4 linked regions of the Homo sapiens genome follow. The protein of the gene in region 3 interacts with the protein of the main gene of each other region in a biochemical or structural test. Each region holds a gene or a part of one and is shown on either strand. Other genes may lie near its edges.

Region 1 (7,926 bases), about 33 Mb from region 3:
TTATGCTAAGCCAGAGGCATGAGAAAGGGAAGTCATGATCATCCTGGAGTTTTCTGGACTCCTGTAGGCCTGGGGCCTGGATTTTAATGGTAGAATAGGAGACAAAGCCTGGAGCCTAACCAGATCATAGACTATAAACTCAAGATCCCCTAAGGGTGACATCCTCAGTAGAAACCATGGAGGGAGACAGGTCTATCCCAGGCCTTCTCAGCCTTGGCTCTGGGTAGAGCAAAAAGAAAAGTCTCCTTTGAAATTCTTAACAACAGGCCTGCAATCAAGTAAGTTTGGGTCAGGATTCTCACTATTTGTGTGGCCAGTAGACCCCAAGCTTATGGTGGTCCCAGTTAGTTCTGTCCTCAGGTTCCTGGCAAAAGCAAAAATAAATCCTCTAGAGGAAAACAATTTCAATCTCAACAAGTCCCAAAGAGAAGTTTCCAAATGAGTTCATAGTACAAAATAAAAATGGAAATCAGGAACATGACAAGAATTCCTAGGACATCTAAGTGTTTGTAAAGAGTATCTCCTAGAATTGTGCAGTATAGAACCCACACAACTGTATGCATCACTTCTGAGACTATCTACTTTCATGGCTACTACTCAGCATTATGCTGAATGGCAAAGAAAAACCAATAAGACACAAAAAATTAAGGTTTGTAAAGATTGGAAAGGAAGGAGCAAAACTCTTACTATATATAGATGATATGTTTGTCTAACTAGAAATTCCAAAGGAATCAACTGATAAGCTTTTATAACTATTAAGAGAATTCCATAAGGTAACTAGGCAAAATATCAAAACACAAAATAGATTTTCTATTTATTGGGGGAAAAAATCAAGTAGAAAAGGTAAACATTATAGTGGAAATTGGCTCAGGAATAGGAAATAAATACAAAAGGACACAGAAATGGACATGTGTAAGTGGGAATTTAGTACATGATAGAGGTGATATTTCAAACAAATAGGAAAAAGATGGACTTTTCAATAAATAGTATTGAAATAATGTATTGCAATAAGTGCCAGGTGAATAAAGACTAACTTTTTAAATAAAAGTATTACAGGAAGGTGCACCAAAGTAGCTTCATAATTTTGGAAGTTGAGAAATCTTTTAAAAATCAGCCTCAAAGAGTAAAATCCAGAAAGAGGGAAACTAACAGATTCAACTACATCAAAATAACAACAACAATAATAGTAAAAATTTCTGTTGGCTAAAAAGTATGATTTAAACAAAGCTTAGAGAGAATATTACACACATATCAAATAATTTGCATTGAGAATAAATAAAAAACTCCTACAAAGAAGAAAAAAAATCCGACATAAAATAAGCTAAGGATATGAATAGGTAATTTAAGAAGAGAAATACAATGGCCAAGAGGGGTCCTATAAAAAGAATGCTCAACTTCATTAATAATCAGGGAAATTAAAATATTGAAATAATGGGTTGTCATTTGCACTAATTCAATGGAAAAAATAATAAAATACTGAATAAACAGCAAGCATTGTTTGGAGTGTGGAGGAACAGTAACTATCCTTCTCTGCTGGTGGGAGTACAGTCGGTTCGGGTACTGTGGAGGGCTGTTTGGCAGCCAAAAATTGAACCACATATATCCTGTGATGTGGCAATTCAACGTCTTAGTAGTTCCTCTAGTGCAATACGTGCACATGTCTAGAAGCAGACAAACACAGTGAGGTTCATTGGTAAGACTGAAAAATTGGAAAAGCTTAAATATCTATCGAAAAGAAAACGGCTAAATAAAAGAAGTGTACACTGTGAAATATGACGTAGCAGTTAAAATAAATGAAGTAGAGCTCTATACAGATATGGAAAGTCTCCAAGTCTTGCTATTGAGTGGAAAAACAGAATTAGAACAACATGGCAACAGATAGGTTTAATAGTCCATCTATGCATAGATGAACACACACACAGACACAATGGTCTGGCAGTAAATATATCACACTAAGTACTTTTGGGGAAACTGGAGATTAGGATTGACAGAATGGCCAAAGGTGAATTTAGGTTTATCTATACTGCTTTCTCATTTTCAAGGAGCATGAAATCATGTATTACTTTATAATTTAAAAAGTTATTACCTAAAAAACCTAGTCTAGTCAGTTTTGTGGTTGTCTTGGGTTTATTCCATAATAATTTTGGAACAAGTTGACAGCTTTTAGATCAGGAGTTGGCAAACTTTTTCTGTTAAAGGCCAGATAGTTAATATTTTAGGCTTTGTGGGCCATACTGTCTCTTTCGCAATTGGTCAATTTTGCTGACTCAATGAATCAGCTATAGCAGGCACTATTCCTCTCCCACATGGCCTCTAATGATATGGCCAGAGTTGAAAGGATGTTGTAGGGCAAAAACAGCCATATACAATACATAACGAATGGGCATGGCTGTGTTCCAATAAAGCTTCATTTATAAAAACAGCTGGTGGGCCAGAGTTAGCCTGTGAGCCATAGTTTGTCAACCCCAGGTTTAGACTTTTATGACATAACTAAAATATTTTTAAAGCGTATTTGTGTACCACAAAATACTTTTTCCCATTAACCAACTGATTAAATAAGCCTCTGAGGCCTCCCTTAGCATCCTTTCAACTCTGACCATATCATTAGAGGCCATGTGGGAGAGGAATAGTGCCTGCTATAGCTGATTCATTGAGTCAAGACTCAGTGGCCTCAGAGGTGTCTGTTGACCTGTCCTAGATATGGAGTGGCCTTAAAGCAGTGCCTCTGGCCATAGCTTCAGCCGAGCTGGGCTGTAAAGTGGAGAGAAGAAGGACCTGGTGGCACTGACCACATGCAGGCAAGACTCGGTTCTGTGGGACAAGGTGCCCTTTCAATAGTAGAGGTAGAAAACTCACTGGTTTGAAGCCAACTCAGCCGCAGCACTGTGCAGGGGTATGGCAGGTGCTCTGAGGGACCCCTCCTTGAAGTGGTGAGTCCTGGTGACTGTCATGCTGCTGTCCTTGGCCTCAGGGGGCTGCCAGCACTAACCCAGCAGGCCAAAAGGAATCAGGACTGAGTTGATCCCAGTTCCCATAGTCCCCAGCTCCCACAGTCCTTGGAGGTGGTATTTCCTGGGTCCAGGGACTCCAGCCCTGTAACAGGGAGCTGGTTGTATGTGTGACTTGTGGTAACTCATGCAGTAGTTAAGGCTTCTCCTGTGGTGATTTTTCTAGGAGGCTAGTGCAGGACCAGAGAGCATCAGTAATGGGGCTCAACATTAAGTGATTGTTTTCATGCTTTTTTTTTTCCACCCTAGAAATGAGGAGACAGCAGCAAGGCCAACATGATTCACGACCCACTATGATGCTGACCTCAAACAGAAGGTATATTTGTGTTCACACACATCTTTTGGCTGGAGCTGAAGGGCGGTCAGCCCCCAGCAAAAGAGAAAGAAAGAAAAACCATACCTGCTTGGTGGTAAGTTCTTTGCTCCGACTTCTCCCCTGGGGTCCACTTTGAACAATCCGGTGCAAAGGATCGATCAAGGAGTAGCTTTACCAAGGAGCCGCTGCCTTGTTCAGGACAGGAGTATTAGCTTATTCTCTTGCTTTTCTCACTGTGAACACTTGGCTTGCAGGCTGAGGCCGAGATTCCCACTGAAGTAAAGGCAGTGCTTCCTCTTCCCGTCCTAGTCATAGGTTATGATTTCCCCGGATATGAGACAATCTTGTCTCTCACCTATATTTCAGTCCAAGTCAGATGTAGGCACTAAGCGGCTCCATTGCCCCTCCTAAGTCCCAAGTCCAGCACTTGAACTAGCAAATGAAGAGATTACCGTATTTGTTCTCATTATGTTCTCCCTACTTTTTTCTTTCAGGTCTCTTCACTACAAAAACACAGGAAAAGGGGAAGAGAGTGGCAAATATCCGCTTTGTCTAAGTAATTCTGAGTGCATTTCATCAGTCTGAGGGTCTCTGTCCTTTACCACTAGGGGCAACATTAATTTGAACCTAGATCTCCTTATACTTCCTCCTTTGTTGAAACCACCTCCCTGGATAGTGTTACTTGATGTGAAAGTGAGCAAAGTATTGATTTATGACGGTGCCAATCACCAGCATGGTTATGTAAGAGGGGGGCAGGCACACAGGGAGAGGGAAAGGGTGTGAGATGAGGGGGCTGAGCACAGTTCTCGAGAATGTGACCCCACCACTTTGATCTCAGAACAGAAGGCTGACCAGGAGTGGGGAGGATGGACCAGCTGAGGGCTCTTTCCTCTCCCGGGTCCTGCCAGAGGGGAGCTGAAGAGTCCTCACTCTTCAGCCTCAACCTTCTTATTCCCTAGCAGCAGGTGCTCCCAAGTGAACAGAATCAACAAAAGCCGAATGTGGTGGATACCAGGATGTGTTTCTTCTACTTGCTTTGTTTATAAAGATGCTTTATGGCAGGTGAGGGGAGTGGAAGTAACTGCTCCTACCTAAAAGGCAAACAAGTACAAGCCTCTGGCAACAGTAAAGCAGGGGCATGGGCCCCAACAAGAGAGGGAGAGGGAGACCACGATTGAGCAAACAGGTAGAAAAGAGAACCTGGGATTGCCAAAAAATGACCACAGTTGTCTTCAGGTGAACATTTGGACTTCCTTACATTTATTTATTGACTTAAGTTGTTATTATTTTGAAGTACATGCTTTAATCCAGCCCTGGTGAGAAAAGCCAGAATATCTAAGTATGATTTGTTTGTTTTGTTTTTAATTGGTTTCTTCTCTATCCAATTTGCACTTCCCAAGGGATGAGAAAGACTTGAGGCTGGGATTTCCTAGGGGTTGACATTTCTCAAGTGGATGCTTGCCTTGCTGTTTTCAACCAAGCGCAGAATGTAAGGTGCTTACACAGCTCACTGCTGGGGACTTACTGCCAGCAGTGGGGACTGGGACCCACAGCCATAGAGCTCTGTCCTTTTTCCAGTCACATTTCTGATTATCCACATGGGATTCTGCTAGGGCTAGGAGGTATTGGATTACAAATCCCACTGGACAGAAAGTTGACTTGGGCCTTAGGCAGGGAGGACCTAGAGTAAGTGAAATATTGAATGTCATGAGGATATTGGAAAGAAAAAGAGTAAGTGAAATACTGGATTTCAGTACCAGTGGAAGTAGCCTGAACAGTGTGCTCTGGGGTAGGAGGACAGCATGGGGCTATATCTGGGGCCTGCAGGTCCCCTGAGAAACACAGATCAGAAGGCCATGGCTAAAGCCAAAGAGGGTGGGAAAGCTGGAAAGGGTTAAGAACTCACCCCAGGAAACTTATTTCCAAGATCAAAAGTAGGCCTTTCTGCACTGACAGGTATCTCCAAGTCCAGGGAAAAAAGGCATGACTCCAGCTCAGGTAGGCCACCTTGCCAGAAGTCCTTAGGTTATGGGTAACATACGTAGCTTTCATCATCTCTCAAATCCCTTCTGGCTCACAAGGGCCTGACCTTCTCTCTCTTAAAAATATAGTGAATTATTTACAGCAGAAACAGGAAACTAAGAACAGATTATGAAACCACTGAGGTAAAGGAAATATTCTCAGGTTTCTGCAGGGATCTTTGGGTCTCTTTTCCTTTGGGTCTGTGGTGTGAAGTCCCAGCTAGAAGACAGGAGAAGGCTGTAGGAGTGCCAGGCCTCTCTAGTCTAGCACTGCACTGTTAATATCAGACATGGCTCTATAGTGAAATGAGTTAAGAATACAGCCAGAAAATACACTCTCGTTCTTAAGGACAGCTTACTAATGCCCTCAGTTGAGGGCCAGAGTCACTCTCAAGCCCAGCTGGGAAGTCAGAGAAATTTGAGGCCTTGACCTCCATTCTATACTTTGCCTATTGCAGCAACCAGAAATGTAGAGCTCCTAAGAAACTCATCAGAGAAAAGCAGATCTGATCAGCCTGAAGAGTTTCTTTTTTTTTTTTGAGACAGTGTTTTGCTGTGTCACCCAGGCTGGAGTGCAGTGGCATGGTCATGGCTCACTGCAGCCTCAACCTCCTGGGCTAAAGCAATCCTCCCACCTCAGCATCCCAAATACCTGAGACTACAGGTGTGTGCCACCATGCTTGGCTAATTTTTTTTTTTGTTTTTCTTTTGTAGAGACGAGGTCTCATTATGTTGCCCAAGCTGGTCTCAAACTCTGGGGCTCAAGCAATCTGTCTGCCTTGGCCTCCCAAATTGCTGAAATTACAGGCATAAGCCATTGTACCTGGCCAGTTTCCTCAGTGTGAATTCATTTAATGTTTTACCCCTCTCCAGAGAATATTAATATTTAAAAAGAGGAACAGAGAGAACAAAATAAAAGAGTGATGCACTGATGATATAAATTCAGGTGGAATCTGAGGAAAATAGGTGTTTATCAGCCAGTCACATGGTCTTTCTCAAAAATCTCTTAGCCTCCCTCTGGGGTGTGCTCAGGGGCACTTAGGGCAGGAGCATGGAGGTGACACTCTGATCCCCATGAGGCAGTCTTGGAGGAAACTTCTCCCTTTTCATCCTTAAGTGGAGGTAGTAGAAGTTACCCAAAAAGGCTAGGAATAGGAATCTTCTCTTTGAAAGCGGTTTCATTTTATCACAAGTAGAAGCAGTGACACAAAGTTTAACTTCCCAGAAATCGCAGATTCCAGCAACTGGAGGACCACTAAATTTGAGCACCAGCTGTTCCAGATCCTATAATTACTCTGAGGCTCCATAAATTACACTTGTGGTCAGAATTCCAATGTCTCTCTTAGAATTTTGGAACACTTTGTTTTCACCTCATTTGTAAATTACACTGCAGAATATGGTATCTGTGACTTCCTGCCTTAGTTGCTTATAAGCCCCCTGAGAGGAGAAGCCCTTATATCACCTGGTACCAATTGCATTTGGTGGCTGCTCAGTTCAGTGTAGTAATTCTTTTAAATATGGTTTTTACTAATATGCTTTAATAGAGTTCTGCCTTTATTGAAGAGAAGAAAAAGGACCACCTTGAGAGGACCTTCCCTGCAGCTAGCTCATGCTACTACTAAATGAAACTCATACTTACTTTTGATTTATTATTAAATGAGTTAGCTCTTAAATGTGTGAAACCTCTTTTCATTTTTAGGCTTTAAACTTGTAATGATGGCAAGTGTCATGATGAGGATAAATTACCCTTTGACAGCAAAGAGATAATTGGGTATTTGGTATATATGGAATTATCTAAAACTTATTTGGAATTATACATATATTTTCATAAATCACTATAATGTTTGAGAGGGATAAAGGGATTGAGGGGAAAAGGTGCAAATCTGGAATCTGGTAACACCGCAATACCTCTTCCCAGAAATATTAATATGACAGTTACCTTCTCTCAACAGCTGTTGCTGTCAAGTTTCTTTGCTCCACAATATTATATTAGAAACTCTTGAATAAAATGTAAATTGAGAGGTCATACAGGAAACAGCTGAGAGTCAAATCATTTCTCAGAAAAATTGTTCCTATTCTATGAATAGACATCCAAACACTGACCACATTTACATCTATTGTTTAGTCAATCAATTAGACCTGTTTTGTCTCTGTAAATGGAAACACAACACTAATTCCCAGAGCAGGTATTCAATAAATTAATTCAAATATTTAAGTGTCTTAAAATTGCTAGTCACATTTTATGTATTTATTTTATTTTTATAAGGTACAATTTATCAGTCTTTACTTTTTTTTTTTTTTTTTGAGATAGGATCTTGTACTGTTGCCCAGGCTGGAGTGCAGTGGGGGCAATCATGGCTCACTGCAGCCTCAACCTTCCAGGCTGAAGCGATTCTCCTGCCTCAGCCTTCTGAGTAGCTGGGCCTACAGGCACATGTCACCATGCCCAGCTATTTTTTTCTGGTAGAGACGGGTTTCCCTAGGTTGCCCAGGCTGGTCTTGAACTCCTGAATTCAAGCGATCTTCCCACCTTGGCCTCTCAAAGTGCTGGGATTACAGGCATGAACCACCACACCCAGCC
Region 2 (8,084 bases), on a different chromosome or scaffold from region 3:
TTGGCTCACCGCAACGTCCACCTCACGGATTCGAACAATACTCCTGCCTCAGCCTCCCGAGTAGCTGGGATTACAGGCACTCACCACCACACCCGGCTAATTTTTGTATTTTTAGTAGAGGTGGGTTTCACCATGTTGGCTGGGCTGGTCTCAAACTCCTGACCTCAGGTGAACCGCCTGCCTTGGCCTCCCAAAGGGCTGAGGTTACAGGTGCGAGCCACCGCGCCGGGCCCTTTTCCGACATCTTAAACGTAAAGTAGGAGACGTGTCATAATCATCGAATACTGCAGTGGTTTTCATTAGCTCCTGTTTGTCAAACTTATGAACAGAGTTTTAAAAATTGTGTATCAGCCGGGTGCGGTGGCTCACACCTGTAATCTTTGGGAGGCTGAGGTGGGCAGATGACAAGATCAGGAGTTTGAGACCAGCCTGGCCAATATGGTGAAACCCTGTCTCTACTAAAAATACAAAAATTAGCTGGGCATGGTGGCGGGTGCCTATGGTCCCAGCTACTCAGGAGGCTGAAGCAGGAGAATCTCTTGAACCCGGGAGGTGGAGGTTGCAGTGAGCTGAGATGGCACCACAGCACCCCAGCCTGGGTGACAGAGCAAGACTCCGTTTCCAAAAAAAAAAAATTGTATATGAGAGAGACAGAACTAGACAGAGAAGAAGGAGAAAATGTGTCTTCTTTATACACTATTTTGTAACTTGCTTTATCGAGTAGGTTATGAAAAATCTTCCTATGTGAAAAACATTTCTGCATCATTTGAAATGTCTATATAATATCCCATTGTGTTTAGATACAATAATATTTAGCCAATCTCTTTATGTGTATATATTTAATACAGTCATTCTATAAATATTGACTGAGTAGCTGCTGTGGGCTACTGTCCGCAGTGCTGAACAAGACAAGCATGAATCCATGAAACTGATTTTCATACCAGAATATAAAAAAGAAACTTAAAGATAATCCTCATCATGGTAAAAGATGAAGAACCTATTTTTGCCGGGACATCTTACTCTTTAGTAATTGGTGGCCAGTGTTCTTTTTCTTGCATGCTGTTTTGGAGAGTCTGTTTTTTAAATAAATATTTAAGTAGCCTGGGCGCAGTGGCTCACGCCTATGGTTTCAGCACTTTGTGAGGCCGAAGGGGATGGATTGCTTGAGCCCAGGGCTTCAAGACCAGCCTGGGCAACCTGGCGAAACCCTGCATCTACTAAAAATACAAAAATTAGCCAGGTATAGTGGCGTGTGCCTGTGGCCCCATCTACTTGGGAGGCTGAGGTGGGAGGATCCCTTGAGCCTGAGAAGTGGAGGTTGCAGTGACTGAGATGGCACCACTACACTCCAGCCTGGGTGACAGAGTGAGACCTGGTCTCAAAAAATAAATAAATATTTATGTAATCATCTTTAAGCAGTGTTTTTAATTTTATTTATTTATTTATTTATTTTTGAGACAGGGTCTCACTGTGTCACCTAGGCTAGAGCACAGCTGCATGATCACGGCCTATTGCAGCCTCGACCTCCCTGGGCTCAGGTGATCCTCCCACCTCAGCCTCCCAAGCAGCTAGGACCACAGGCACACGCCACCAGGCCTGACTCATTTTTGTATTTTTTGCAGAGACGGGGTCTTGCTATGTTGTTCAGACCTGTCTCAAACTCCTGGGCTCAAGCCATCCTCCTGCCTCGGCCTCCCATAGTGCTGGGACTAAGCCATGAACCACTGCACCCGGCATAAGTGGTCTTTCTTTAAAAAAAAAAAAAAAAAAAAAAAAAAAAAAAAAAAAAAACCACATTAATTAAAATATGTATTTGCTTATTATAAATATATTTGAAACATGCCAATTTTTCTTCTCTTTTTTTGCTCTATTGGTTTCTGTGTGTGGATGGATATATTTTTAATGGCAAATAGGATGAGTGTCTTTACTTCCAAGTAGTCAGTGTTTTTCTTTAATGTTTGTACTAATTTTGTCACATTGCAGTTAGAGGTTGTGGCCTGTCTAATTTCTGCTTTTTTGGAACTTGAGAGTCTCTGTTTTTATTTGTTTTTGGTAGCCTGGCATAGAGTCCATTTTTCTTTTCTTTTCTTTTTTTGAGACGGAGTTTAGCTCTTGTTGCCCAGACTGGCGTGCAGTGGCGCAATCTCAGCTCACTGCAACCTCCGCCTCCTGGGTTCAAGCGATTCTCCTGCCTCAGTCTCCCCAGTAGCTGGGATTACAGGTGCCCACCACCACACCTGGCTATTTTTTGTATTTTTAGTAGAGACGGGGTTTTGCCATGTTGGCCAGGCTGGTCTCGAACTCCTGATCTCAGGTGATCCACCCGCCTCGGCCTCCCAAAGTGCTGGGATTACAGGTGTGAGCCACTGCGCCCAGCTGTAGATACTTTTTAAAAAGGTATAGTTTCTGATTATGGGGTAGAAATGTGCTATGTCTGTCATTTCAGCCTTATGAATTGCCCAGAATAAGCTAGATCACCTTTAAGGCCATGTGGTTAGGGAAACTTGGGCACAGAATTTACATTTTCAACTTGGTGATAAGATGGGTTTAAGGTAAGAATCAAATAGGAGAAAGCCTTAGCTGTTCCAGCGGCCCATGTTTAAAAGAATGTGCTTCTTTTTCCAAGTATTTCTGCCGCTTGCATGCACTGAGCTTCTTTGGAAAGGAGCACCATGCAGGCATATTTTCCAGACAGGACCGGATTTGCTCGTTACTCAGAGGTGTGTGCATTCTTTGCTTTTAGGATATTTAATTAGCATCTTTTAATAGTGATATTACGGTGTCTTAAAAGTTTATGCATTTGAAAAGAAAAGAACTTACTCCTTGCCAGGTCTCAACCTATCATGGTTATCTTTGCAGCTGAGCTGCGTTGGTTTTGAGGCTCACATATGGTAAAAGTGGTTGGAAATCTGGAAATATTGCTGTGTATCTGCAAAGCAGCTTGATATAGTGGAAAAGGTATTAGGTCATTAATCATGAGATTTGGATTCTAGCCCCTTAGCTGCTGCCTGCCAGGCCTGGAGACCTTTGTTCTCTTCTTTAAACTGCTGCTTTCTCATCAGAAAATGAAGTTCCTCTCCATACCACCTCTCTGAAGGGCTGTGAAGCTCGAAGTGGCAGCTTAAAAAACTGCCCATCTCAGGAGGTGTCTTAAGAAGGAGGACATACCGCTGGCTCCTGCCTTTCTCACTTAGCCAGGTCTGATACCTGTGTTGTTTTCACTGTGGCCATTTTAGGATTTTTCAAAGGCTTTCAGAAAGCAACATGCTACCGTACCCCTTATACACCAAAACTGGTTTTCATTTTGGAATATAAAAGTGAGATTTCTCCACCAGTACAATAAAGTTGTTACAAGTGGTTCCTATGTGTTTGTTTTTGTTTTTGAGACAGAGTCTCACTCTGTCACCCAGGCTGCAGTGCAGTGGCACAATCTTGGCTCACTGCAACCTCCGCCTCCCGGGTTCAAGCAATTCTCCCACCTCAGCCTCCTAAGTAGCTGGGACTACAGGCACCCGCCACCACGCCCAGCTAATTTTTGTATTTTTAGTAGAGATGGAGTTTCACCATGTTGGCCAGGCTGGTTTTGAACTTCTGACCTCAGGTGATCCACCTGCTTCAGCCTCCCAAAGTCTTAGGATTACAGGCGTGAGCCACCACACCCGGCCTCCTGTGTGTTTTGAAGGTGATTGTGACCTCAGGTTTTGGCAGGGCTATACCTTGTGTTTGCTCTTACTCCAACTCCATGGCATACCTGGACCAGGCCTCTTCATCTTGAAGAGGGATCTGCTGAAATGCAGGCCCAGTGAATCTCCCCATGCCTGGACACAGTTCCGTCAAGCCAGGACCCGGTGCTGCCTGCACCCCTGTTTCTGTTAGTCTGACTGTCCTCGCTGAGTCTAACTCCTTGAGGGCAGAGAGGATGTCTTATTTATTTCTGCCCCGCTAGCCGTGTAAACTGAGTAGGTACTTGTAAATGTTCATTGAATAAGTACCTGATTAATAGAATTTAATTCAAGAAGAATGTATTGATGGGCCTGTGTGGTCACCACAGTACTGAGATGTAGGTGGGAGCTGGCTGAAGGGGGAGGCACCTAAACAGGAGTGCAGACAGCGGCACCTACGGATGATGGCCCGCTCCATCCCACCGCAGCGAAATTGTCCCAGACCTCTGCAGCTTCCCCCACACCTAGACTGAGAGAGAGCTCTTCTTCCTTCTGTAGGGAGCAGGTGTTTCCTCCAGATGTCCAATATGTACCTCCCATTACAGCGGTGTTAGGAAGGTGAGGGCTGCCGCTGAAAGGGTCCCCTTCATAATCATCACTAGATTTGGGGTATATTATGGATTAAATAGAATTTTTATAAGATGACCTGAGGATCTATTTAAATAAAATCCTCTTTCTTTCTGCAAGATCATGGATTTAAATTCAACACAACTGACTTCATAGGGAAGGGGTATGGTGAAAGGGAAGTGAGGTGGGCAGCACTGATATTTAACAAGGTGAGGGTCCTTCTCCTGCTCTGACTGTCACATTAAAATATTCCCAGGAGAAATTGGAGAAAACTCAGATGAAATATCGTCTGTGTTCCAGGAGGCAGGACTCATCGGAATGCTTTTATTTTGCTCCATTTTAAGAGATTTGCAGATAAAGAGGAGTGAAGATTTCTATTCAGATTTACTTGCTTTATATTTTAACTTATAGACCACAAGCCAACTTTCGAAAGAGCATCATTTTGAATAGTAAGAGTTAGGAAGGCAAATACAGAAGGACTAATGGCTTCCAAGATTATGAGCTTCATAGGAATGGTTTGAGATGAGGCTATAGTAAAGCAGAATATTGAAGTTCCCCCACCCCCTTTCATTTTTCATTTTTCATTTTTAAGAGTGAGCGAGGCCAGGCGTGGAGGCTCACACCTGTAATCCCAGCACTTTGGGAGGCCGAGGTGGGCAGATCACAAGGTCAGGAGTTTGAGACCAGCCTGGCCATCATGGTGAAACCCTGTCTCTACTAAATGTACAAAAATTAGCCAGGCTTGGTATCAGGTGCCTGTAATCCCAGCTACTCAGGAGGCTGAGGCAGGAAAATTGCTTGAACCCAGGAGTCGGAGGTTGCAGTGAGCTGAGATCGCACCACTGCACATCTCAGAAAAAAAAAGAGTGAGGCCCCAAGTTTTTTTGCATTTGTTTGTAACTGAATACGTCTGAAGTTATGTGATAACCACGCCAAGGTGACAAATTGCCAAGTTTCAGTAAAAGAGACCCAGTTATTTAGAGGTTGACACGTGGATATGTCCCTTTCTAAGAAGTTCGTGGTCAGCTTTACATGAGTATTTAAATGCGTGTTTATAATTCAGCAATATGGCTTGTAAAATACAGATTGCCAATCAAGTGACATGCAAATCTTGATGATCTGAAACAAGTTTTCTTCTGTTATCTATGGAAGAAATGGTAATAGGGATATTTAAGTGGGATGAATTTTTTGAAGCATTTTCAGGCAGTTTTCCACATGGAACAAAATAACATTGAGTGGGCTGCTAACATGAGGAACATATTGCCCTCTGCCTAGGATTATGAGTAAATTTGATAAATTCTAGACTGCAGTCTCATTTTAGCTCATTTTATGAGGCAGCTTGACAACTGGGATAGTGTCTCTTTTTTTTGTCGGGGGTGTTGAGGCTGGAGTCTCGCTCTGCTGCCCAGGCTGGAGTGCACTGGCGTGATCTCGGCTCACTGCAACCTCTGCCTCCGGGGTTCCAGTGGTTCTCCTACCTCAGCCTCCTGAGAAGCTGGGATTGTAGGCATGTGCCACCACGCCCGGCTAATTTTTGTATTTTTTAGTGGAGACGGGCTTTCACCATGTTGGCCAGGCTGGGTCTCAAACTCCTGACCTGAAGTGATCTGCCCGCCTCAGCCACCCTAAGTACTGGGATTACAGGCATGAGCCACCACACCTGGCTTCTGTTCTATCTGTGCATTGGGGATGAAATTAACACAAATGATGTTTAAAGAAAAAAATGCTCAGAGAAGTTAGAAATGTGCTTTAAATTGGAATCATCTCTTAGTATGTAAAAGTTTTTTGTAATAGAAACAAGCAGGGCAGTATTTGACCTGTTGACAGTGTCCTTGGACTTTACAATTTGTGAAGCAGCGTATTTTGCTTGAGTTGTACGATTGTCGTTTTTTTCCCCCCACTTTGACAACTGTTACAGAACCTGTCACCAGATACAGGCAAGGGAGGTTGGGCTTCCCATCTCTGCACGGCTTCCCTGTGATTCACAAGCAAGCAATCAGAAGTGCACAAAAGTTTAGAACGCGATTTTCATTCTCTTCTTTCCTTAGAAAAACTCGCTTTGTTAGCCTTTTCCAGAAAGGAAGGCACTCAATTGTTGTAATACTCAAATCATAAAAAGAAGCCTAGTCTAGTCTATTCAGCAAGGTGTTCTGAAAGAGGGAATTTTTTAAGTTCAATTATGCGAAGATCTTGAAGGTGGGACTCAAAGGAGAGGGCTATCCTGGGAAGAAGGCTTTGGAAAATGAGAGGCATGAAGGGGAGAGGGTATTTAAATGTGTTTGAAGCCAAGGATCCTTGAGAGAAAAAGCTGGCACTAACAGCGTTCAAAGAACTTGCGTGACAAGTGATGACTAATGACACTGAGGGTGGGTTGTGGGTGCCTAGTGAATTCCTCCGAAGCCAAGAGAGAGGTTTCCAGACCCAGGGAAGAAGGTGTGTACACCCAGAAGTAGTGTAGGGACAGAGATTCCGATCACAAGCTGTGACTGGAAGACGCCGACCACCACTGCAGCAGCCTGAAAACCACAGTCTTGAACCGCCAGCGAAGGGCTGGGAAGTGCGGATCCAGGGCTGGTGCACTGAACCCAGAGGAGCAGGCTCCCATTCCCAGCTAAGGGTGGCAGCTGGCGGGGATCTTTCCAGCAGAAAGCTGTAAGTGGAAGCTTTCAATTCAGAGCAGTAGCAATGCCTTCAAAGTCCCAGGCTTCACGTGGGAACAGAGAATGTGAAGAGTATTTAGCAGGATGCCAATATAAGAAATCTATATTGGTGTTCGTTTGTTTGTTTTTGAGATGGAGTCTCGCTCTGTCACCCAGGCCGGAGTGCAGTGGTGCGATCTCAGCTCACTGCAATCTCTGCCTCCTGGGTTCAAGCGATTCTCCTGCCTCAGCCTCCTACATAGCTGGTACTACAGGCACGCGCCACCATGCCTGGCTAAATTGTTGTATTTTTAGTAGAGATGGGGTTTCACCACGTTGGCCAGGCTGGTCTCAAACTCCCGGCCTCATGATCCGCCCTCTGCAGCCTCCCAAAGTGCTGGGATTACAGGCGTGAGCCACCGCACCTGGCCCAATATTGTTTGTTTATTTATTTCTTGACAGGATCTCACTCTGTCACCAGGCTGGAGTGCAGTGGTGTGATCTCAGCTCACTGCAACCTCCACCTCTCTGGCTCAAGCAATCCTCCCTCCTCAGCCTCCTGAGCAGCTGGGACTACAGGTGCACACCACCACACCCAACTAGATTTTGTGTTTTTTGTAGAGATGGGGTTTAGCCATGTTCAGCTAGTCTCAAACTCCTGGGCTCAAGTGATCTGTCCGCCTTGGCCTCCCAAAGTGTTGGGATTACAGGTGTGATTCATGATGTCCAGCCCAGTATTTTTCTTTCACTCTGGAAACCAAAAATTATTGGCTTTTTTTCCTGTTGCATTCCCTTTACTTAGATGAATCTAGCAAGGTTGGCTGTTAGTGTCTAGGTCAGAAGTCTAAGTGAAAGTGAATATTTAACCACACTCAAGCACAGCTGATGATCTTTAATACTAATAGAGGTATAAGACTTAAAAGAAACAAGAACCCAGAGGGAAAATATGGCCATGGACTCAGAGAAAACCACGGCAGCTTCCATGGACTCATAAAAAGAGCTCAAAACCTAGGAAGTGGATGGAGACTCTTTTTGGAATGAATGAATTCAAATGTGGGCTTTCTTAGTAGATTAAATCATTTTCTAGAAGGAATTTCAGAAGGATGTGTGCCCAATTATGGTATCAGGTCTGTTGTAGACTCTTCAAGGAGGAAGC
Region 3 (8,069 bases):
GTGACAAACAAAAAGTCTACATATGAAGATACACAGATGAGATACAGAACTAGACTTAGACAAATATCAATATCTATATAGATTTTCCTTATATAATAGAGGACAGTATTAGGTAGCTTGCTCAGGCTTTAAGTGGCTTATATTACTACACCAGCTTCACCACTTACTGAATGACCTTTGGTAAGAATTTATCTCAGTTTCCCAGTCAGTAAACTAGTGCCTATATCACTAGGTTAATGTGAAAATAAAATGAGATAATACATATAAAGCACATAGACTAACTATGCATAAACAATAGTTAAAAAGTTTTGCAATTAGTAATTGCTAACATTTATTGAAAGCTTATTACATGCCAAGTATTGTTGTAAGTGGGTTTAATATTACTATTATCTCCATATTACAGATAAAATAACCCAAAACACTAAAGGGTAAAATTACTTGTCCATCAATGTATAGCCACTAAGGTATAAAGCTTGGGTTTATAGCCAGACAGTTTAATTACAGAATCTATCTCCATGCTGAATATATATACTGCTTCTGAACTCACAAAAAAAAAGTAGAAAAATTAGAAAACATAAATATGAAAAATAGAGGAAAAGAGGTTTTAATTTTATATATAACCCAGAGATAATTAGATTTGAATATTAATTCTTAATAGAATTTTTCTCTGGGGTTACATATTTTTCTCTTTTCTTTTTTTCTTTTTTTTTTTTTTGAGACAGAGTCTTGCTCTGTCGCCCAGGCTGGAGTGCAAGGGCGCCACCTCGGCTCACTGCAACCTCCGCCTCCCGAGTTCAAGCGATTCTCCAGGCCTCAGCCTCCCAAGCAGCTGGAATTACAGCCCGCCACCACGCCTGGCTAATTTTTGAATTTTTAGTAGAGACGGGGTTTTGTCATGCTGGCCAGGCTGGTCTCGATCTCCTGACCTCAGGTGATCCGCCCGCCTCGGTCTCCCAAAGTGCTGGGATTACAGGCATGAGCCACCGCGCCCAGCTATTTTTTTAAAATTATACTTTAAGTTCTGGGATACATGTGCAGAACGTGCAGGTTTGTTAAATAGGTATACACCTACTATGGTGGTTTGCCGCACCCATCAACCCGTCATCTACATTAGATATTTCTTCTAATGCTATCCCTCCACTAGCCCCCACTCCCAGACAGGCCCCGGTATATGAGGTTTCCCTCCCTGTGTCCATGTGTTCTCATTGTTCAGCTCCCACTTAGGAGTGAGAGCATGCGGTCTTTGGTTTTCTGTTCCTGCGTTAGTTTGCTGAGAACGATGGGTTTCCAGCTTCATCCATATCCCTGCAAAGGACATCAACTCATTCTTTTTTACGGCTGGATAGTATTCCATGGTGTATATGTGCCACTTATTCTTAATCCAGTCTATCATTGGTGGGCATTTGGGTTGGTTCCAAGTCTTTGCTATTGTGAATAGTACTGCAATAAACATACATGTGCATGTGTCTTTATATTAGTATGACAGGATTTTTTCTGGGGTTATATATATTTTTCTCAAGATGTGGTTTTTTTTGAAACTCAGAGTATTTAAAAAAATCAATCCTTTGCTTAATTTAAGAGGAAATACGGTGAATAAATCAGGCTAAAAACACCTGGCGAAGACTTCTTTTCTGCATATTTTCTTTTATCATCTTAGATTGAAGTAGAATTTTCTTCTTATTTATCTGGTAGTTTTCAAATTGAGCTACAATTTTCATTATTATCTAAGTGATTATAAATGAGCTCTAGAAACATACAGAATATGGCAGCTTAAAATGTCAATAGAAAATTTCTTAAGGTGCCAAAATAACAAAACAAAAGTAAAAATAAATAAATAAGCCTTTGGATAAGGTCAAATTTTAAAGTCTGAAATCATTAAAAATGCATGCAAAAAATGAACCACATGTTTAGCTCTTACATAAAATACTATGTATACCAAGGTCCAGCATAAATTTAAAAGATGAGACATTAAGAAAATTTTAATCATACAATGATCAGAGCAATGAAAATTAAAATTTTCAGTGTATTTGTAAAAGACACAAATGGATAATAAAATTGAATGGCCTTTAAATAAAAGGATAAAATATAGAATCTGTTAATTAACAAAACGATAAATACAGATAGCAAATATAAACCTGAAAACAGAGCATATCAGCAATCAAAAATGCAGATTAAAATATTAAAATATTATCCTATCAGATTAATAAGGCATATATATTTACACATTATTACTAACAATGAGAATGCCAGACAATTGTGGATTTTACACCACTAATGCTAGTGTAAGATGGTATAAGAGCATCAGTCATATTTTAAGGGTGTCTTCCAAGACAATGTTCTATCCCTCCTTGTCTACAAACATCTGAATGTATCCAGGACTATCCTACCCATTCATAAGTGTGGACCACTGGGAACCATCTTTATACTTCTGGAACTTACCAAAAAGTTATAGCCAATAAGAGTATTTCTCTCGGCCCAGCGCATGGCTCACATCTGTAATCCTAGCACTTTGGGAGGCCGAGGCGGGTGGATCTTTTGAGGTCAGGAGTTCGAGACCAGCCTGGCCAACATGGTGAAATCCCATCTGTACAAAAAATACAAAAATTAGCCAGGTATGGTGGCAAGCGCCTGTAATCCCAGCTACTTGGAAGGCTGAGGCAGAAGAATCTCTTGAACATGGGAGGCAGAGTTTGCAGTGAGCCAAGATCACGCCATTGCACTCCAGCCTGGGTGACAGAGTGAGACTCCCCAAAAAAAAAAAAAAAATTATCATAAATGTCGACTGAGAAGCTACAAGATAGTCTGTTTGCCTCCTTGAAAGTTTAAGGCATGATCTAGAGATTTTTGAGGTGAACATGGATGGAGAATCAGCCTAGGCTGTTCTATAGAGAAGGAAAAAAGTTTGAGACAAAAAAAAAAAAAAAAAGCAGGTAGGAGAGTCAGAGAGGTGTGCCCTCATTTTCTATTCAGTCTGTCTCTATGGCCTGACTTCCTTCTTTTCTGTGAGTGCCAAGAAACTCCTGTGTCTCCTGATAATAAACAATTCTTTTTGCTTGACTTACTCCTGATATTTTACATCAAAATCATAATATAATTAATTATTTGAAAATGCAAGTTAGTAATGTTTTCAAGATGTTAAAAGTTTGTAAGACTTAAGCTTAGTAATTCTACTTCTAAGAATCTATCTTAAAGGGGTACATTCCAGATAATCCTATAGATATATTGTATCGTAGAAGACTGTAATGGAAACATTTATTTCCTGGCTTTACCTCATTTTAACAGAACAGGTGTTTAATTTTTAAAAATGATTATGGAAGAAATTCTACGATTGCAATTTAAAACTTTTTAGATATCATGGTAAATAACTGGGAAAATTTTATATTGTTTGCTAGGCAGGTTTTATGGTACTTCATAAAGTATCTTCAGTATACTTCATAAAGTATATTTTTCACATACTTTACCAACATATTCCAATGACTTTATATAACAATAGTAAAATTATTAAGGGACATTTTCAAATTACATTTTCTATAAATATCATTTAGCTTAATTTTTAACATACATGATACCCAATAAACACACTTTTATTTAATTTTCTTAACAGAAACTCCAAATAGACATACTGAAAATCACCTTTTTGTATATGTGAAGTCTGAAAATGATCAGAATTCTGCAAGGGTATAATAATGCTTTTGATTACTTGAAACTTTCTCTCATTAGAAAAGACTAATAAAGCTTCAAAGATATAGAATTCAGAATGAAAAAATATGTCATTTTTAGAATAAATATTTTCATTCCATATCTAATGATTTAGGCAAGCTTTTACATATTTTCCTTCAAAATATCAGCTGCTTACTGACAAAGTGTTCAAGTTTTTGAAAATGTCTTATCAATATTAACATGAAATTTGATACAAAGCAACCAATTCCAAATTATCTTAAAACATTCCGTAGTACAAAATTAGTGTCTACTCACATCAATAATATCTATTCCTGTTCGCTTACTTCTATTTGCTATATTACCTTAATATACAATACATAAATAGTATTTTATTTACTCATTACATACTCATAAATCATGATCATTGTAAAGTTTTGATGCTGTTATTTATCTTTGAAATAGTTGGCTGTAGCATATTATTTTTTTCATTCTCATATAAAGTCAATATATTTTGTGTGAGAAGTTTGCATCTAGTTAGCAACTACCATGGTTATCTCAGGCTTTGTGGCACAGAGTCTAGCTTAGTGAGAATGGCAAGGTACATAACTCACATAGATGTTGTGAGATTTGCATGACGTAACTGTATAAATACCTAGAATACTGTCAGCATCTAGTAACAGCTTACTAAATATTGGGTTCTTGAGTGAATTGAAATCGAGGTAAAGATAACAATTACCCATATCTTAGTTGTATTTAACTTTGGTGCAGTAGTGGTTGCGGTTCTTGCCATTAATGCAATCACTTTTGCACCAACCTATCATTACTACATTTTATCCAATTTTTTTCCATTTTTCACTTATAATATAGTAAAACTTATATTGGTTGTCATCGTTTTTAAAAGCTGTGCATTTTTGAGTATGAATCATTAATTGACAACATATTTTCTCATGTTTAGTATTATATGCTTCTCTCATAATCTTAAATATTGTTTCTTAAAATTATGTATAATACTATGCACTTCTTTTGTTTCATGTTTTATCGCAGATTTAATGAGAAGTTGTTTAAAAAAATCTCATATTTATACATTTGCAATTGTGTTAGTAGCAAAAAGATACCTACTATTTTTCAATTGATTGTGGCATTATTTTTTTGAGGGACGTGTTTTCAAAATTGTTGATTCCTCTCTAAAAGGTCTGAACTACTGAAGTTGTCAAATAAGGTTTCAGATTTCTCCCTTCCCCTCCATCTATACCCCAGAATCAGCTTCCTTCTCTGCCATGGATTATGTTTGGGGTAAAAAAGGAAGACGGTTCAGATTGATAAAGCAATACTCCTGGGAAAAGACTATTAACATGTATAAAGGGATTTCCTTGCAGTATAAATACTAGCGCGCACCCTCCTGGTGCCTCAGAGCCTTCCTGATGTATATATGCAGGTAGTGAGAATTGAATCGGCCCTTTGAGACAGTAATATAATAAAACTCTGATTTGGGGAGCAGCGGTTCTCCTTATTTTTCTACTCTCTTGTGGGAATGAGTTGCCAAGCTTTTACTTCGGCTGATACCTTTATACCTCTGAATTCTGACGCCTCTGCAACTCTGCCTCTGATAATGCATCACAGTGCTGCCGAGTGTCTACCAGTCTCCAACCATGCCACCAATGTGATGTCTACAGGTACTGACTCCTATGACAGTTTACATATGACCGGGCCTAAATATTTCAGAATGAATGCTTTGAATCTTGATAGTTAATAATCTCTTTGCATCTTTCATTTTACCCCTCCAATTTAATTTGTCTTAAGTGAAGTAAGCATTAAGCATATCTAAAAAGCCAACATGCCAAATAAATTTTAAAGAAATATTAGTAAGTGTAGTAATTTAAAATCACTGTTGGCTTTGTTGTAAGGAAGAAAATCTGTTTTCTACATAAGAAAAGAATGAACTTGGACATTTTAAATCTAAAAACCTTTTTAATGGAAATATTTATAGAATAAGGAGCAAATGAAATGAATATTATAAAATAACAATATTTAAAAGGTGCTACTTCTTTATCTTAAAGGTTTATTCGGTTGTTAAATTACATTTACTATCTAAAAACAGCTATAAACCTTATATTAAACACAACAGAACAATCTGAATATCAACAACAATGGATTTCATAGAATAAAATAGAGTTTTAATTAACATATTTTAGCATAAGATACAGAAATTATAGCAAGAAATAACATGACATTTAAAGCCCATTAACTAAGGTAAATTTTCTCAAAATTGCATTCTGAAGAGACTTACTTCACTTCTAAGTTTTAACATTTATCTCACATAACTTTTTAGAACAAAAATTAAACCTAAGAATTCACAGGCTCAACACAATCAGCCAAATACATATGTTTTGCCAGTGTGTTCATTCTTTATGCAGTAACAAAGTGTTTTAGAGTTGATTTACAAATGGAGAAAGACTTGAATTGGGTAAATTTCTTCCATTGAATAGCAATATAATATTCACTTTCCACTTGTTTTAAATGCAATTTTTCTCATATTTAGGAATGAAATTATATACATTTAGAAATCAAAGTTTGAGTTGATACATTATTCTGATTTGAAGGATTTAAGCTCTATCTTTTGTTATTATTAAGCATTTTCTAAATACATGCGTAAGTTTGGCACCAATCTTCTGGTGGATTTTAAAGAATCTAGAGGTCAGATATTTAGACTTTGGTAAAATCATTTAATGTAGAGATTTTTCAATATTACCTTTTAAATTAAATTTCAGGAATCCGCCAAAGATTTCTGTAATTTAATTTAAAGGGTAATACAGGAAGTATCCTCCAACATAATTTTTGGAAGACACAATAGTTTTTATCAAAAATATATGCTATAAATAAATCTAAGCAATTACCACATAGCTAATCACATATTTTAAATAGTAGGTCATCCTATAGATTGAGAATAATGAGAATAATACACTATTTCTGTGTTTGAAGATAATTTGGCCAGCATGAAAATACAATTCAGAATCGAGGTAATAATCTAGTAAAATCTAATTTTATACTCAAAATGCCATTTATTTACTTTAAAATAAGTAACAATTTATTTAGTAAATTAGCCTATCCTGTATTTAACTTCCTAAAATCTGAAAAGCAAAAATTATTTAAGCCTTAAAATTAAAAAAGAATTATAATTAATAAAAGTGACCTACAAATGTTTTAAATGATAATAGCATTGATTTATAATTTTTTAATGAAATTTGAATCATATACATCTAATTGTCTAAGGAACTATTATAGAAACACTGACTTTAATGGGAACACTTGAGTATTAAATATGTTTAATGATAATTTGCTTAATTTTGGAATGCACAGTAATGCATTATATGTAATCATTATATTGCAAAATGACTTTAGTTCTTTTGAGCTATTAATTATAAAATAAAAATGTATACAGATTTTTAAAAATTAAAGATTTTTCTCTATTTTAAAATAATTTATTTTACTTTATGAAGAAAGGCATGTCTTTAATCACTAGTTTGTATATTGGTATTCTCAAAGGATTCTAACCATACTTTATAATATCTCATTTATTCAAGAAAATTAATTTATGAAAATTAACCAATATATTCAGAATATGAAGGAAAAAATTGAGAAAATAAAATATATAAGGAAATATTGGTTTTATTGTCAATATTTTGTGCTCCCTATCAACTTGATGATTTGTGTTTAAAACTTGATAAAAGTCTAATAATTCCAGTTTACTTCCAAAATACACATTGATTTCCTGAAGCATATAACCATTTATGAACGGTTATGTTTATGTACGGCTTTATGGCTTTATGGATATTAAGTCACTCAATGAATGAACTCATTTTTTGACCAGCTTTATCATTAGAATGGTTGTATCAATTGTGTATATGCAGACAACTAACAACCTCATGGTTTCAACATCAAAATAAATAGATCATATATTGTTACAGGTTTTTAATAGCACTCTGAATGCAGTGAGATTTTTATGATTGTATCTAATAAAAGGCTACTTGCTCTGCCATTTCCACTTTGATGAAACAAATTTGTTAGACAAATAAGCAAAAATACGCTGTTCAAGAGTGAATTTCTGTATTCATTCATACAGACTGCTTTATAATACCATGCAACACAAGAATTTTAAAGGACTATTCTTCTAGTCGGCGAGTTGCAATGTCTGCATTGAACAGAACCAACAAGCATTCTGCAACTCCCAAAGGGCCAAGGTCTAAATTGGTCAGTCACCCCTTCACGGGGCACTCGTAGCCATAGCACAGAGCACAGGATAATTAATGAAGTCCGTTTTGATGATTTATTATCTCGTTACATGAGACAAACTTTGATCCCCCCTAGTTTTAACCTACTCGTCAGAGAACTTACCCAAAATGAGAAAAACA
Region 4 (8,084 bases), on a different chromosome or scaffold from region 3:
ACCCAATATTCTGTTGAGAGAGGCAGAAAGAATTCTCCCTCTTCAGGTTCAGTTACTTGAAGAGATGAGCATGATGTTTGTGCTGAGGCTACAGCTTTTGTTCTGTAATTAAAGCAACACAGCAGCAAAAGAACATAGCTGTTTGGGGTGGGGTGGAAGGTGAAAGGTACGGGGATGTTTCAATCTGATAAACTGCTAAAGCAAAGTTTAATCATTTTATCTCAACTGGGAACTGTTTTTCTGTGCAGGCATAAACTTGTTTTCCCATCAGACTTTGCTCCTAACAAGCTATCAAATACCTGAGGAAAAACCCAAACCCATACTCTATGTCAGATTCTTATGGTGAAATATAATCAGACTACTCCATACAAGAATCGGAGCCATGGCATTTGTTCCAGGGTAATTAGAGGATCCCAGGCTTACTGCAGGGTCGTTCAGAGCTTTCTGTCCGCAGGTGCACTTCGTCTCCCTTCCTCTCCTTTTCCTAGGGGAGTTGGCATCTGGGCAGGAGCTTGACTGGGTTGCTCTTCTCTCCCTTGACACAAGCGCAGTCGCATTTCACCAAATGGAGTCACCTTACCAGTGTCCTGCTTCTTGTCTGGGCCTGAACTTGAAACCTGAGGGCAATGGGAAAAATACAAAACAAAAACCAGACATCTGTTAGAGGAAATGGAGAACGTAAAATCTATGGCCTAAAGACTGCAATATATTTTTGAGAAATTTTGAAATTGATTAGTTTGGGGGTTGGGGATTGATCCTGCTAACCTGGGATGTACTCAAGCCTTTGGCTATAGTGTGGTCGACATACACGCAGCACGAATGCATTGAGAATGAATGCTGAATGCCTTCTGAGCCCTTAGAGATTACTCATGGATTCTCTTTCCAAGATACTAAATCCCATTTTGCAGCTACTGAAATAATAACCTTAGTCATATTTTTTTGATCTCATCTTTAGACAAGGCCACAGTCAGGACAGACTCAGATACCAACCCAGTTAATGAGTATGCAGATTTCTTAGAAAAGGGGTTGAGATCATTGTGGTCTTTGCATCCAAGATCCTTTTAGGCCAAGCATGACTTGAATATTGACCTCTTTGTTCCTTCCCTATCTGTTCATTACAGAGGATGTGAAACCATATCAAGTTAATGGAGTCAACCCAGCCTATCCAGAATCCCGCTATACCTCGGATTACTTCATTAGTAAGTTCATTTCTACCCCTCTTCTCTCATGATAATAGCAAACTAGGAAAAGACCCCTATCTCAGTGAATCTCAGGCTCCTTCATGGTAATTCTATCAAAAATAATATCTTCTTAGATGTAGACTCTTCTTTGTTACTTTATTTTATTATTTTCCACAAAGCACAAAGTTTCAACCTATATATATGTTTCATTAACCTACCAAGTTCCTACACACTAGGATCCTTCTCTGATGTCTTCACCTGAAAGTCATGCAGAGAGACTGCAACTAGACCCCTAAACTTTTGTTCCTATTTGATACTGTGCACTACGATGGCCAAAAGAGGGTTGGGTTAGGGATTTGATCTTGGTCTTTGTTCTTTCCTTTTTACTAGTGGAGATAACAGCATTTCCTCCAAAATCCTTCTTTAAGAGTGTGCTATGCAGCTTCAAATTCTATTATAGGAAATACAGTCTTCTCCTTTTTCGTGTAAGATACCCAACCATACTGAAGAGATGGCCTGAGGGAAACAATGAATGTAGGCCTGTTGCACTAATGTAAGCTCTGAGATATAGGACCATCTTATCTGATGGCTGTGCTTTTACAGGGAATATGAAACAGGTTTTATTTTTTTCGTTTTATCTTTTTACGTTATTACAATTTTTATTCCAGTGACACAATGATATTAACTACTCTGTGTCAAGAGCTTATTGTGTGGGGAATGTTGGTGGGCATTTGACCTCTATCCTCATTTCATCTTCATCACAGTGCTCCGGGAAAAATCGCAATCACCCCCATTTTAGAGATGAGGATATGAAGTCAGGAAATCAATTACCTTGTCAAGGGCTAAAGCTGTTTAGTAGTGGACAAGGTTAAAAATGCAAGCTTTTCTGATTTAAAGTATTTTCCCTTATTCTCTAAGGAGCTTGTCCCACATCATAGGGCCCTGTAGATGGTGAAAACTGCTTATTTTAGGTACAAATCTCTCCTCTCTTTACTTGCAAACCCTTTGTTTCCAGGCTATGGTATTGAGCATGCCCAGTGTGTTCCACCATCGGAGTTCTCAGAGCCCAGCTTCATCACAGAGTCCTATCAGACGCTCCATCCCATCAGCTCGGAAGAGCTCCTCTCCCTCAAGTATGAGAATGACTACCCCTCGGTCATTCTCCGAGACCCTCTCCAGACAGACACCTTGCAGAATGACTACTTTGCTATCAAACAAGAAGTCGTCACCCCAGACAACATGTGCATGGGGAGGACCAGTCGTGGTAGGTCATATTTCTTCTCTAAAAGCTCTTGGGTTTACAAGAATTACCTGACTTTGTGAGTTTTTTTCAGGTTCCATTTTTTTTTTCTTATTTATTAGACCTGTAGATTCCTCAGTTTCAGCCTTCCCATCTTAGAGTGTCCAGATACTAAGAACTTTCCATCGTGGTGTTTTAGCCAAGTCCATTATTATGACAAAGGCCATGGGGTCCACAGTGAAATCAAAATCAGGCAATCTAAGAAATTAAATATCTTACTTGGGCAAAATGTTTTACTCAATAACTCTAGTTGAATTTGGTCATTTTGAAAGGTATGCTCTATTTTCCTTGAGGAGGACATAATCAAGTAAAAATGGTTCAAGTGGCCACCCTGGAAAACCCTTAAGCTTAGCATGTGTCCTGGTGCTCCTCCCAGAGGACTCCTGGGTCTGACTGTAGATCCTAGCTGGGTACCTGGAATGACCTCTGCTGGCCAGCCTGGGATCTTTAGCCTCCTGTGACTTTTTCGGTTTGGGAAGATACAAGATGGTTAACCAACGGTTTATTTGGAACCAGTCATCAGCAGTGTGGTGAAGTGTGTATTTAGCTAGAGGACCAGGGACGGAGGTGGCCAGGGGTTTCCAAAAGAAGGTAGTTTTGTTAACGTGACTATTATAATAGTGATAAAATATTCACTGTCAGGGAAGAAAGTGTTTAAAAATAGAGCTGGGTGACATAAAGCAAAAAAGGTAAAATGCACCCAATTTTTAGGAACAGGACATAAACACTCAGAGGTACAGCCTACCTAGTAAAGTGTCCAGATTGTTTTGTTTCTGAGAAAAATGCAATCTATTGTAAGAAAGGGTTTGTCTATTTAGCAAGAGCTAGATGATTTCTAAAAAGGTGAAAAACCTGACTTTTCTGGTGGGTAAATGGGAAAGAATTATAAATGGGAAGAGGAACAGGAGAAAGCTGATCAAGCGGGGCTTGGGTCAGATGTCAGGCTGGGGCTGGCCTATTAGTGATTTCTGCTCAATGACTGACCATATGCGGTGCCTATTGTGAGGCTCTTGGAGGAGAGCCCAATGGTACCTTTACTTTGAAGAATCATGGGTCATGCCCATTGTCGTCTTCTTCGAGTATTCAGACTCACACTTCCTCCTAGCAGGCCTAGGGATCACCAACAAGCCCTGCAGAGGGAAAGTCCCTGCAAAATCAGAACCCCTAATCTTCCTTCTTAAGGCCCCAGGGTGTTAGTGTTTCAGACCGAAGGGGATGGGTGGGACCAGTCGGCCTTCCCCTTTCTGGCTCTTTTTTATTTTTGGGTGCATGTCTATTTAAATACATACACACAAGTGTGTGTACATGTGTTTCTTTTTTATCAGGCGAGTCAAAGCATTAAAACGACTTTCTTCCTTGTGGGACTTTCTGTACATCTACACAGTGAGGCCAAGCCTGTGGGTTTGGGCTCAGCCATGTTGTAACTTTGGGTCGATCTCCTGTCACATTGTTTTGAAATTGCATCTGGCTTTGCATTTGTGTAATTGTCTCTTTCCCTCTCCTTTTCTTCATTCTTGGTTTTGGTCCCTACCACCCCTCCAACCCCAAACTAATGACTGTGGACCAAAAGTGACCCTTACAAGGAGACATGAGGTATTTCTTTCTGGCTCCACTCTTCTTCCCTCCCTCCAAGTTCAGGCCACAGAAACTTGAGGGGAAGACCATTTTGTGCAGGGCTGTTTTCTGCATGTTAGAAGTGCTGCAAACAGGGCCTATGCAAAGGGCCAATTGATTCTGAGATGCTGTGATTGGTCTAGACCGAAAGCATTACTGTTAGCTGATTGTTATTTATACTAACCATAGTACAGTATTCACGGGCTGCATTACAGCGTACAGAGTGCTTCTATGCCCCACTTATTTGGGCCCTAAGGACTGTCTTTGTACGAGTCTACTCAGTGGGTGGCTGGGTGCTGCCGCATCTTCTGTTTTGAGTGCTCTGAGGTCTGTTTGGTGGACTCAGATAGCTTTGGAAGGAGCTCGCCGAGGCCCTTCTCAGAAAGGCTGGCTAGTGGACAGTTTAGAGAACACAGGTTTCCCTACATGAGCGCAGCAGCATAACTGAGTATCTAATCCAGTTGGATTCTACCCATTTTTGGAGAAAATACCCGTAAATGAAGGTTCCCAGCACCAGGGTTGTGAAATCGAGCTAAAATGAAAGCTGCCTACCGCTGTAAACCACAACTCTCAACAGGGTTGCATTTGCCTCATGTTTGGGGGGTTGCCAGAGACTGGTTCTGGCTTGGTTTAGTCCCCTTGCTTAGTGGGACTCCTTGGAAACTCTACTATCTTGCTTGTGAAAATTCTGATGTCCTTTTTCTCCAAGTATAAAATTGGCTGATAGAAATGGAATCATTTCAGAGAGACTTTAGCATAAATACTATCGACTTGGTGCGGTGTTGATGAAAATATAAATTCTCCTTCTTAGGCTTTTGGTATGTTTGTCTCAAAGAGAAAATAAGTGACCATGAAGATCAGTAGCTGGTATGAACAAATACCTTTTTATGAGACGCCACAGAATTTCCTGTTCTGCTAAAACAAGGCTTTGACATTCTGGTTGTAGGCTGTTTTCTTAAATCATTTAGTGTGAATTTCTTGAAAGAAAATTAAATGATCTCTAAAAAGGTGAAAAAGATGACTTTTCTGGTGGGTAAATGGGAAAGAATTTTTAAGAATTATAAAGAAATATATATTCATTTTTAGTAAGAATGAAGAGGTGCCCTTTTGCTAGTGGACTGGGTGGGCAGGGCTGATAACTCCATGAAGCTCTTCAGTTTGCTTTCCAGAGATTACCCTCCTCTGAATGGATGAGTGGAGGAAGGAATGAGATGAAACGGATGACACCACCTTTCTGTTTAAAGCAGTTCCAGAGGGGGTCAGGATGTAGAGAAAACCCACAGCAGTGGATTTTACAAAAAGTACACACTCAACCGAATACATTTTATCCGGATCTTTAAACAATGTTGGGAGCAACATATTTTCCTATATATTTAATTTAGGTTTGGGCATCTGTTCATGTTTGATGTTTATTGTTTTAACCAATCTCCGCTGTCATGGAGGGAAAAATACACTGGAGGCACACTAATATGAAGTTGTATAAGTCAGCCTTATTCTGGGATTTGAAATTTATAGATCAACCACCCCTGAACAATTAAGAGTTGACTTACGGATATTTCTCCGTAAACATTTGTCACATCCCTTTGCCTTTTGGCCTGTGCTGAATTGAGGTGACCATCTAGTCTCCTATGATTTAACTTAGGTTACTTGAAAAGTATCTGAAAGTTGCATATAAAAACCATTCCTGCGAGCCTTTTTCGCTCTTAGATTCATTTGTTTTCCTCCAAAACTATTTTTTTTTTTTTTTTGCTAGCCTCCTTTTTAGTGGCATTTTTGCCAATGGAAATTTCTCCAGGAGCTATTGTGCAATCATAGCAGCTGTTTATAACCTGGTTTGGGAAATTAATGAACTTGCATGATCTTGTGGTCAGTTAAGAATGCCTTAAGCAACTCACACAGTAAAGGATTTCTGACACTGCTGTGGACCTTAACTCTTTAATAAACCTTTTAAATATTGCCTACACTTTTCCAATGAAGTTTAAATTTCAAGTACATAATTTTACTTGGAGAGGATAAAGAATATGGTTTTCTGTTTAGAAGAGTGATAGTGTGTGTGATTTTAAAAAATCTCTTGGGAAAAGCATCTTACACCATCTTACTCTATTTGAAAAGGCATAGGGTCAGTACATGTATTTCATATTAAAATAGTATTTGGGAAAAATGCTAAAAAATAGCACTTAGTTCCAAGGTCAAAACAGGCTAATCTGCTCTTAGTCTAATGGGATTCTTTTTTCTTATGACCAAAATGTTTTCCAAACTGGGCCTTTTGAAGTCATCTCATTGGCTTGAGCTGGAGTGGGGAATTCAGCCTGACATTGCTCTGATTTCTTCATTTATTCATTGGGCCTACGACATCAGCCAGAAATCATATCATAACATGTGTGATCCTCAGCTTCTAGATTTCTGGCTTTAGAACTCTTGAGGACCCAAACGCTACTCCGACAGATGTGAGCAACGTTTGACTCTGAATCTCTGTACTTGGAGTTCTCAAACCAGGCAGCAGAGTGGCCGTGGACCCTCGGATGGTGGCCTAGTGCAGCCCCTTTCCTCAGAGTAAACCCATGACCCCTGAAGCTTCTGTTCCCACTCGCCTCTCCCTTCTTCCGTCCTTCCTGCAGATCTGATTAGCAATCTGTCCTCCATAAGAGGGTTTTTACAGTTTTTTTTTTTTCCCACTCCCTCCTCCCCCTGTCCTCTTCCTACCTCCTCCTTTACCTCCAGGTAAACTCGGGGGCCAGGACTCTTTTGAAAGCATAGAGAGCTACGATAGTTGTGATCGCCTCACCCAGTCCTGGAGCAGCCAGTCATCTTTCAACAGCCTGCAGCGTGTTCCCTCCTATGACAGCTTCGACTCAGAGGACTATCCGGCTGCCCTGCCCAACCACAAGCCCAAGGGCACCTTCAAGGACTATGTGCGGGACCGTGCTGACCTCAATAAGGACAAGCCTGTCATTCCTGCTGCTGCCCTAGCTGGCTACACAGGTAGGCGCCCTCCCGCTGCTTAGGCCAACTCCATCTGCACGTTTCTGTGGGTGGGGTCCTGGAAGGCACTCTGCACCTCTGACCAGAGACGACGAGAGACTCCCTTTTGCAGGGCACGGGGGAGAAGTCTCTCTAAGAATTCTTTAGTCTCTCTCCAGCCACTCTGCTTGTGAATAGCCATTGATTTTTGGAAGCAAATAGTATCATTCTCTTCAAAGGGATCATTTCCAAGAATGGTAGGAAACTTACATTTTGGGTGTTTTTCCATGTCTGGGGGAAGGGAACTATAATGATCTGGTGTTCCTGGAAACTCTATCTAGTGGCCTGGCATCAGGGGATTTTTCCTGGTCTGCTCTTGGGAGGTCTTTCTAAATACAAAATCAGCAGCAGCATCTCTCAAAGGCACAACTGAATGGCCTCCGCACTGGACTCTTCTGCAGCACGGTTCTCCTTAGGCCAGCTGTTCAAATGTGGGAACAGTATCCTCAGTGGCACTACGCCCTGTCCAGATCCATCCTGGCCTATAGAGAATGCCCCTTCTCTTACTCGGCTTTATTATCAGTTTTCTTCCAGGAGCGAAAGCTATAGTTATGATAGTGATGGGTGAAGAAAGGCCATAGAGAAAGGAAGATGTAGGTTGAGAGCTTGAACTTTGATTGAGACTCTGGTAGTAGAGCAAAACAATGCTTTCTTCAAATGGGTTGTAGCATATCATGCTACTTAACCAGAAAAACATGTGGAGAGTATATCTGAGAAATAGCCAAGGAGCATTAATGTGTTAATCATCAGATCTCTCTGTAAGATTGTAGTGTTTTCTAAAAATTAGAAAGTGTGTTGTGAGTAGAGCTTATTTTAAAGTAGCTTTGATTACTCAGATGTGGTCTAGGCCTTTATTCTCTTATAATTCTCTCCACCCTGGATATGTTTTCATGTAGGGACCCTTTGTGTGGATGATGACAAACAGCAAGATCTGTGTTTCTATTGAGGTGTCTCTCTGATCCTTAGAG

Evidence for each region.
Region 1: the proteins of POU1F1 (region 3) and NR1I2 form a complex in vitro, tested with the Homo sapiens proteins (one study listed by BioGRID).
Region 2: the proteins of POU1F1 (region 3) and PPARA form a complex in vitro, tested with the Homo sapiens proteins (one study listed by BioGRID).
Region 4: the proteins of POU1F1 (region 3) and ETS1 form a complex in vitro, tested with the Homo sapiens proteins (one study listed by IntAct).

What each region holds. Positions count from the first base shown.
Region 1 is NC_000003.12:119,777,783-119,785,708, reverse strand, and holds the start of NR1I2 (nuclear receptor subfamily 1 group I member 2), read right to left. Parts: upstream 3,609-7,926; 5' UTR 3,409-3,608; intron 3,000-3,408; exon of another isoform or gene 2,952-2,999; coding exon of another isoform or gene 2,857-2,951; intron 1-2,856. UniProt on the Homo sapiens protein: Nuclear receptor that binds and is activated by variety of endogenous and xenobiotic compounds.
Region 2 is NC_000022.11:46,153,237-46,161,320, forward strand, and holds part of PPARA (peroxisome proliferator-activated receptor alpha), read left to right. Parts: intron 1-7,805; exon of another isoform or gene 7,806-8,084. UniProt on the Homo sapiens protein: Ligand-activated transcription factor. Key regulator of lipid metabolism. Activated by the endogenous ligand 1-palmitoyl-2-oleoyl-sn-glycerol-3-phosphocholine (16:0/18:1-GPC). Activated by oleylethanolamide, a naturally occurring lipid that regulates satiety.
Region 3 is NC_000003.12:87,273,585-87,281,653, reverse strand, and holds the start of POU1F1 (pituitary-specific positive transcription factor 1), read left to right. Parts: upstream 1-5,069; 5' UTR 5,070-5,191; coding exon 5,192-5,333; intron 5,334-8,069. UniProt on the Homo sapiens protein: Transcription factor involved in the specification of the lactotrope, somatotrope, and thyrotrope phenotypes in the developing anterior pituitary. Specifically binds to the consensus sequence 5'-TAAAT-3'. Activates growth hormone and prolactin genes.
Region 4 is NC_000011.10:128,479,184-128,487,267, reverse strand, and holds part of ETS1 (protein C-ets-1), read left to right. Parts: intron 1-1,121; coding exon 1,122-1,199; intron 1,200-2,196; coding exon 2,197-2,445; intron 2,446-6,816; coding exon 6,817-7,077; intron 7,078-8,084. UniProt on the Homo sapiens protein: Transcription factor. Directly controls the expression of cytokine and chemokine genes in a wide variety of different cellular contexts. May control the differentiation, survival and proliferation of lymphoid cells.